2 linked regions of the Homo sapiens genome follow. Changing the gene in region 1 together with any one later gene gives a genetic interaction. Each region holds a gene or a part of one and is shown in the gene's direction. Other genes may lie near its edges. The genes, in order: NTRK1 and DOT1L.

The links.
Region 2: changes in NTRK1 (region 1) and DOT1L together harm fitness less than expected from each alone (positive genetic interaction), as found in Homo sapiens cells (one large-scale study listed by BioGRID).

What each region holds. Positions count from the first base shown.
Region 1 is NC_000001.11:156,874,365-156,877,864, forward strand, and holds part of NTRK1 (high affinity nerve growth factor receptor isoform 2 precursor), read left to right. Parts: intron 1-18; coding exon 19-36; intron 37-206; coding exon 207-262; intron 263-541; coding exon 542-644; intron 645-1,155; coding exon 1,156-1,302; intron 1,303-1,715; coding exon 1,716-1,846; intron 1,847-2,035; coding exon 2,036-2,208; intron 2,209-3,500. UniProt on the Homo sapiens protein: Receptor tyrosine kinase involved in the development and the maturation of the central and peripheral nervous systems through regulation of proliferation, differentiation and survival of sympathetic and nervous neurons.
Region 2 is NC_000019.10:2,215,711-2,219,715, forward strand, and holds part of DOT1L (histone-lysine N-methyltransferase, H3 lysine-79 specific), read left to right. Parts: intron 1-570; coding exon 571-1,055; intron 1,056-1,244; coding exon 1,245-1,380; intron 1,381-2,061; coding exon 2,062-2,208; intron 2,209-4,005. UniProt on the Homo sapiens protein: Histone methyltransferase. Methylates 'Lys-79' of histone H3. Nucleosomes are preferred as substrate compared to free histones. Binds to DNA.

The sequences.
Region 1 (3,500 bases):
TCCTCCCTCCTGCTGCAGTCTCCTTCTCGCCGGTGGGTGAGTAGCCCAAGGTGGAGGGCAGGTTCTGCCTGGTCTCTGGAGCTGAGGCTGGGGCAGAGGGTACAGCTGAACTGATCCCTGAGAGACCAGCTGGGGCCAGGGTTGGGGGGTTACTGGAGGCTACAGTGTGTGTCAAGGCTCACCCCTCCTGCCCTGTGTCCCTACAGACACTAACAGCACATCTGGAGACCCGGTGGAGAAGAAGGACGAAACACCTTTTGGGGTGAGATAGGAAGTAGAAGCTTGTGCAGACTTTGGGACCGGGAGGCTGGGTAGAGGCTCATCTGCATGTCATTTCTGGTCAGAGCAGGGAGATCACTACCATCTGGCCTGAGCTCTGACGGCCACCCGCACAGCCACTGCAGGGGTCCCCAGGGGAGGATGAGGCAGGTCTGGAGACCTGGCTCCGGGCTCCCATGCAGGATGAAAAAATGGCTTACTACAGGAGGCTCTGAGAGTACAGGAGGAGCCCCTGGATCTAACTACCCCTGTCCCCCACCAGGTCTCGGTGGCTGTGGGCCTGGCCGTCTTTGCCTGCCTCTTCCTTTCTACGCTGCTCCTTGTGCTCAACAAATGTGGACGGAGAAACAAGTTTGGGATCAACCGTGAGTCGGGGCTGCAGAGGGCTGTCTGTCTGTCTGTTCTCCTGGCTTTGTTTCCTACTGGCTCTTCCTGACTCTGTCTCTGGGGGGCTGTGCACATGGGAGTTCCAGGGCGTGTGAGTGTGTTTGGGGTATAAATGAAGGCCTGGCTGTGAGGCTTGTGAGTGTGAGTGTGTGTGGGAGCGTGTGTCGGGCTGGTGCTGGGGTAGTTTCAGAGGCGGCAGCTGCTAATTGGTGGCTGGATTGTAGTCAAGCATTAAGTGGGTCTGGGAGGTCTGGGCTCTGTGGGGGTGGAGGGGGAGTTCTTTGGTGCCCATGGGGCCAGGGGTGGGACAGGAGCCAGCACAGGGAGAGGCGGTGGTGCCCCCTTCCCCCTGCCTGCTGTCTCGCTCCCTAGCTTCTCAGTCTCTCCCCTGCAAGTTACAAGGTGGGGGTGACCAGGCATCCTGCAGGCAAGGGTGGGCAGGGCCAAGGTGTGGGCAAACCCCTCCATGCGGCTGTGTCTCCTCTCTAGGCCCGGCTGTGCTGGCTCCAGAGGATGGGCTGGCCATGTCCCTGCATTTCATGACATTGGGTGGCAGCTCCCTGTCCCCCACCGAGGGCAAAGGCTCTGGGCTCCAAGGCCACATCATCGAGAACCCACAATACTTCAGTGATGCCTGTGAGGGGCTATGCTGGGTCAAGGGCAGGGACGAGTGTGTGTGTGTGTGTGTGTGTGTGTGTGTGTGTGTAGAAGCCCCTAGGCCTGAACGATCCCTCCCTTTCTCCCACCCCTCCCCAGCCCTATTCCAGCCATAGGCCCTGTCATATTCTTCTCAGGCTGAGTCCAGCCTGGCTCTTAGCTGCATCCCCTGCCCAGAGTCACAGCTAGCCCAAACCATGTCCTCTCGGGGCAGGTGCAGCCCCACACTATGACATGGGGCTTGCTGAAGGGGTGCAGGTTGAATTTTAGCCCCCATGCAGTCCCTCGTCTGGGCAGCCTTGTGCAGCACACAGCCCTGCCAAGACAGTCCCCGCTACAACCCCAGCCCTCCCAAGACTGGGGCTACCGTCTGACCCTGCAAGCCCCCTCAGGTGTTCACCACATCAAGCGCCGGGACATCGTGCTCAAGTGGGAGCTGGGGGAGGGCGCCTTTGGGAAGGTCTTCCTTGCTGAGTGCCACAACCTCCTGCCTGAGCAGGACAAGATGCTGGTGGCTGTCAAGGTGAGACCCTGCCCCGGGGGGTACTGCTGGCCTGGGTCCCACCCCCAGGAGCTCCATCACATCAGGACAGAGTGGGGGGAGATGCAGAGGGCTGACATGGCTGGATACCGGGGTGGGCGGGCTGCCCTGGGTGAACAGCAGTGAGGGCTCGGCCCCCAACTCAGTCCTGTCCCTGCCGCTTCCATCCAGGCACTGAAGGAGGCGTCCGAGAGTGCTCGGCAGGACTTCCAGCGTGAGGCTGAGCTGCTCACCATGCTGCAGCACCAGCACATCGTGCGCTTCTTCGGCGTCTGCACCGAGGGCCGCCCCCTGCTCATGGTCTTTGAGTATATGCGGCACGGGGACCTCAACCGCTTCCTCCGGTACCAGCACCTGGCCTCAGCGCTGGCCCCGGCCCCTGGCTCTGGGCCCCGTCTTCCCTTCCCTATAGACATCCCTGCTTGTCTTTCAAACCAAGGGGAGACACCAAGAAAGATCAGGAAGGCACATTCCCGTCCCCAGGGAGCTCTGAGATGGTAGAGGAGGCAGATGTGTGAACATAGGGGTGACTCTTGCAAAGGACAAGTGTCAGTAGTCAGGGAGGTTGCGATGGCAAAGGCCGTGAGCTAAAACTTTGGGGTGGGTGGGCTTTGCAGAGGGTGTATGTGCATTTGTGTGTGGCACACAAAGGCCAGGCCTGTAAGGGTAGCAGTTTAGATAACGACAGTAACAACGACAGTAATGAACATTTATCAGGCACCTTCTATGTTCCAGGTGCTATGTTATATACTTTATAATTTATTATTTTTTATTTTTTAACATGTATTTATTACTGTTATTGTTTTAGAGTTGGGGTCTTGCTCTGTTGCCTAGGCTGGAGTGCAACGGTGTTGCAATAATAGCTCACTGCAGCCTCAAATTCCTGGGCTCAAGCAATTCTCCCGCCTTAGCCTCCCCAGTAGCTGGGACTACAGGTGCACACCATTGCACCTGGCTCTACAATTTGTTCTTATTATGGTTCTATGTGCTGGTACATATATATCTTGTATAGTAATATAAATATGTATTTATTTTTTATGGCCTCCAAGCATATATTGCAATTTACACTTGAAGCAAGTTACAAAAAATTCATTTCTTTGGCTTCGGACAGAACAACTCTGATACATTTATCTATTTGTGCTGATAATTTTAATAACTTCGAGAAATGTGCCTGTTTCACAGATAAGGCTTAGAGAGGTTCAGTGACTTGCCCAAGGGCACACAGGTAGTGAATGGCCCAGGGGTGATGTGGCCCCAGGCAGAGCCCCTACTCTCAGCCCCTGATGTGATGGTCACATGTTCCCTCGGTCTAGTCCTTCTCTGATGAGATCACCCCCGGGAGGATGGGGCAGTGTTTGCAAGGCAGGGAGAAGAGCAGGGTTTGGAATCAGCTGCCACTTATGAGCTGAGCCTTCTTTGCCAAGTAGCTTTCCTCTCTGACCTCACTTTCCTCACCAGTAAGAGGGACAGTGTGGGGGCTGTGGTTCTGGATGAGCAAGCGCTGTATGGTTGTCCAGTTGATGGTCATGATCTGGTCCCCAAACATCCCTTTGGGAGTGATGGGTCATTCATGCAGTCAGGCTGCAGGACTCAGCTAGGAGAGACCCCTGAGTCTTGGGCTTATCCTGTGGACCAG
Region 2 (4,005 bases), on another chromosome or scaffold:
TAGAGAAACGGAGGTCGCCGACCTCTTTACCACAGCCGGGCCCTGTGGGTCTGCCTGGAGTAGAGCCCTCGGGAAGAGCATATTTGGGTTCTGACCATTTTTGTCATCATCTTTTCTGTGTAATAAAAAAACAATGTGTTTGTTAAAAGAAAGGAAAGCAGGTAAACAGAACAGATAAACTAAAAGGAAAAAGCCCCTCTCAGACTCAGCGCCCGGGGAAGCTGCCACGCTCGAGTGGCGTGTCCCTCCACAGGTTTTACACTTAGTGAAACTGGATGTTTTACACTTAGAGTCTATTTTGAGAGACGAGAGCTCTTTGTATCTTCCTGTTGCTCTTTTTGAAGAAGGTGCTTCCATGTCAGCAAAAACCATCCTCGGCCCTCCACATGACTTTATTTGACGCCCCCAGCTTCCCGACCCCGCCTCTATGTGGTCGGCAGCTTTGGTTTTTCCATCCCACACAAGCAGCGGGGGTCCTGGCCACCCCTCCGGGTGTCCATCTGTGGCAGTCTTGGTTCCCTGGAGTGGTCCCCCGGTGGGGCGGGCCTGACACCATCTCTCCTCCTGCAGATCAGCATTGTGGAGCTAGAGAAGAGCCAGCGGCAGCAGGAGCTCCTGCAGCTCAAGTCCTGTGTGCCGCCTGACGACGCCCTGTCCCTGCACCTGCGTGGGAAGGGCGCCCTGGGCCGCGAGCTGGAGCCTGACGCCAGCCGGCTGCACCTGGAGCTGGACTGCACCAAGTTCTCGCTGCCTCACTTGAGCAGCATGAGCCCGGAGCTCTCCATGAACGGCCAGGCTGCTGGCTATGAGCTCTGCGGTGTGCTGAGCCGGCCTTCGTCGAAGCAGAACACGCCCCAGTACCTGGCCTCACCCCTGGACCAGGAGGTGGTGCCCTGTACCCCTAGCCACGTCGGCCGGCCGCGCCTGGAGAAGCTGTCTGGCCTAGCCGCACCCGACTACACTAGGCTGTCCCCGGCCAAGATTGTGCTGAGGCGGCACCTGAGCCAGGACCACACGGTGCCCGGCAGGCCGGCTGCCAGTGAGCTGCATTCGAGGTGAGTGCCCTGGTGGGGCTGGGGGTCTGCAGCTGGTACCTGCCGACTCTGCCTGGTGTGCTCAGGCTGTCGGGTTCTCAGCAGGAGTGTGTTTGTTGAGGAGACTGAGGTGGGGAGGTGCTGGGCCAGGCCGCTGCCTCTGAGTGCCAGCCCACGGCCCTCGAGAGTGACTGCAGCTTCTCATTCCAGAGCTGAGCACACCAAGGAGAACGGCCTTCCCTACCAGAGCCCCAGCGTGCCTGGCAGCATGAAGCTGAGCCCTCAGGACCCGCGGCCCCTGTCCCCTGGGGCCTTGCAGCTTGCTGGAGAGAAGAGCAGTGAGAAGGTGCGGGCCGCGACCCCTGCCCCGGGCTCAGGGAGGTGCTCAGCAGAGGCGGCCTGAGCGAGTTGCTAGCAGGAGGGCTTGTCCTAGTTGACCTTGGGGCACGGTGAGGTACTGGGGCTGACCTGGAGTAGGATGTTGTGGCAGAGTTGGGGGCAACCAGTAAGGACAGGTCACAGGTGACGTTGGGCAGGTGCCATGGAGGACATGGGGTTTGTCAGGGTGTCCCTGATGCCTCTTAGTTCTCAGTGACGGACGGCAAGTGCTGGTAGAGACACAGAGCCCAGTTTGGGAGGCCGCTGCCCATGAGGACTTCCCCGGGGGCACTGGCCTGTGTGCACAGGGATGGAGAGGGAAGGACGGTGACGTTGCATGGACTTGGCAGTGATGGATGTGGGCCCTGGGAGGCTTGGTGGCCCCACGGGTGACTGCCCACCGAGCCGGGCGGGCAGGCTGGAGGGGACAGATGGGCATTGCTTTCAGACACCAGGAGCGTGCCGTCCCTCTGGAGTGTCCCAAAGCCGGTGTCCAGGAGGGCCTGACTGCGTGGGGAAGGTTGCAGGGCCTTGGCAGCGTGGGGGCCGCCTTGAGAGAGCTGTAGCAGGCCCCCGTCCTGTGGCTGTGGTCCCTGTGTCCTGGAGGGGTTTGTTGACCCACGACTGGGGGTCGGGCCTTCGTCTGCAGGGCCTGAGAGAGCGCGCCTACGGCAGCAGCGGGGAGCTCATCACCAGCCTGCCCATCAGCATCCCGCTCAGCACCGTGCAGCCCAACAAGCTCCCGGTCAGCATTCCCCTGGCCAGCGTGGTGCTGCCCAGCCGCGCCGAGAGGGCGGTGAGTGGCTCCCAGGTGGCTGTCCCCAAGGGCCACGTTGAGGCAAAACAGTCTGGGGTGCTCGAGACCTGGCTCACTTTGCGAAGTCTCACGCTGTAAAATGTCGAGCGTGAGGCAATGCAGTCAAGGTGGGCTGTCCAAAGCCGGGGCGTGTCCGGTGACCTGGGCCGTTGTTTTCGCCAGTCTTTTTCTTTTGGGTGAAAGGTACGTGTGCAAGTGGAGAGGGCCTCACACCTTCTGGGTTGAGGAGGAGCTCAGAGGCCCACCCTGGCTCCCAGCCTCACTCCTCACGAGGCCACATTGGCTGCCGTGGCCCCTGTCCTCACAGCTGCCTCTGGGTTCTCCCACCCAGCGCTGTGCATGCAGAGAATCTCGTCTTGTGTAGCATGGGCGGGATTTTCTGGGCATTGAACTATTTTTTAAAAATTGTGCGCTTCAAGTATATGCTTCAGTGGTTTTTAGCATTTATTTTTTATTTTTTATTTTTATTTTTCAGACGGAGTCTCACTCTGTCGCCCAGGCTGGAGTGCAGTGGTGCGATCTCGGCTCACTGCAAGCTCCACCTCCCGGGTTCACGCCATTCTCCTGCCTCAGCCTCCCGAGTAGCTGGGACTACAGGCGCCCGCCACCACGCCTGGCTAATTTTTTGTATTTTTAGTAGAGATGGGGTTTCACCGTGTTAGCCAGGATGGTCTTGATCTCCTGACCTAGTGATCCGCCCGCCTGGGCCTCCCAAAGTGCTGGGATTACAGGCGTGAGCCACGACGTCTGGCCTCTTTCTTTTTTTTTATTTTTCGAGATGGAGACTCATTCTGTCCCCCAGGCTGGAGTGCAATTGTGTGATCTCGGCTCACTGCAATCTCTGCCTCCCAGGTTCATGCCATTCTCCTGCCTCAGCCTCCCGAGTAGCTGGGATTACAGGTGCCCACCACCACGCCCGGTTAATCCCCGCCCCCACCAGCTGAGACGGAGTCTTGCTCTGTTGCCCAGGCTGGAGGGCAGTGGCACGATCTTGTGATCTTTACTCACTGCAGCCTCCGCCTGCTGGGTTCAAGCAGTTCTCCTGCCTCAGCCTCCCGAGTAGCTGGGATTACAGGCATGCACCACTATGCCCAGCTGATTTTTGTATTTTTAGTAGAGACAGGGTTTCACCATCTTGGCCGAGCTGGTCTCAAACTCCTGACCTCAGGTGATCTGCCCACCTCAGCCTCCGAAATTGATGGGATGACAGGCATGAGCCACCGCACCCGGCCAATTTTTGTATTTTTAATAGAGGTGGAGGTTTTGCCCTGTTGGCCAGGGTGGTCTCGAACTCCTGGCCTCAGTCGACCCACCCGCCTCGGCCTCCCACAGTGCTGGGATTCCAAGTGTCAGCCCCCGTGCCCGGCCGGTTTTTTGTACTTTTATACACCTCTGTCTAATTCAGGACATTTTCTTCACCCGGGAAAAAGCGTTGCCCGCCTCAGCAGTCACTCCCTAGTCGTCCCCCAGCCCCCGGGCCCCCGAACACGCTCATGTCTGGGCCTGTCCCTTCTCTTGGCACGTGAGGGCATTCCCTGTGTGGATGGAGTGTGCCATCTTCATCCGTGCCCAGTTGATGGACCCCGGCTTGATTCCCTGTTTTGGCGATTGTGAATCGTTCTGCTGTGAGCGCTGGGGTCCAGGTTTCTGTGTGGATGTAGGTTTGCTCTTTGGCCCATGTGGGAGTGGAGCTACTGGGTTCTGCGGTCACTCTACTGACCTTTGTTGGACTTGGAGTGTGGTGTGGGGAAGTGCAGTGGGTGGTGGCCGGCAGGT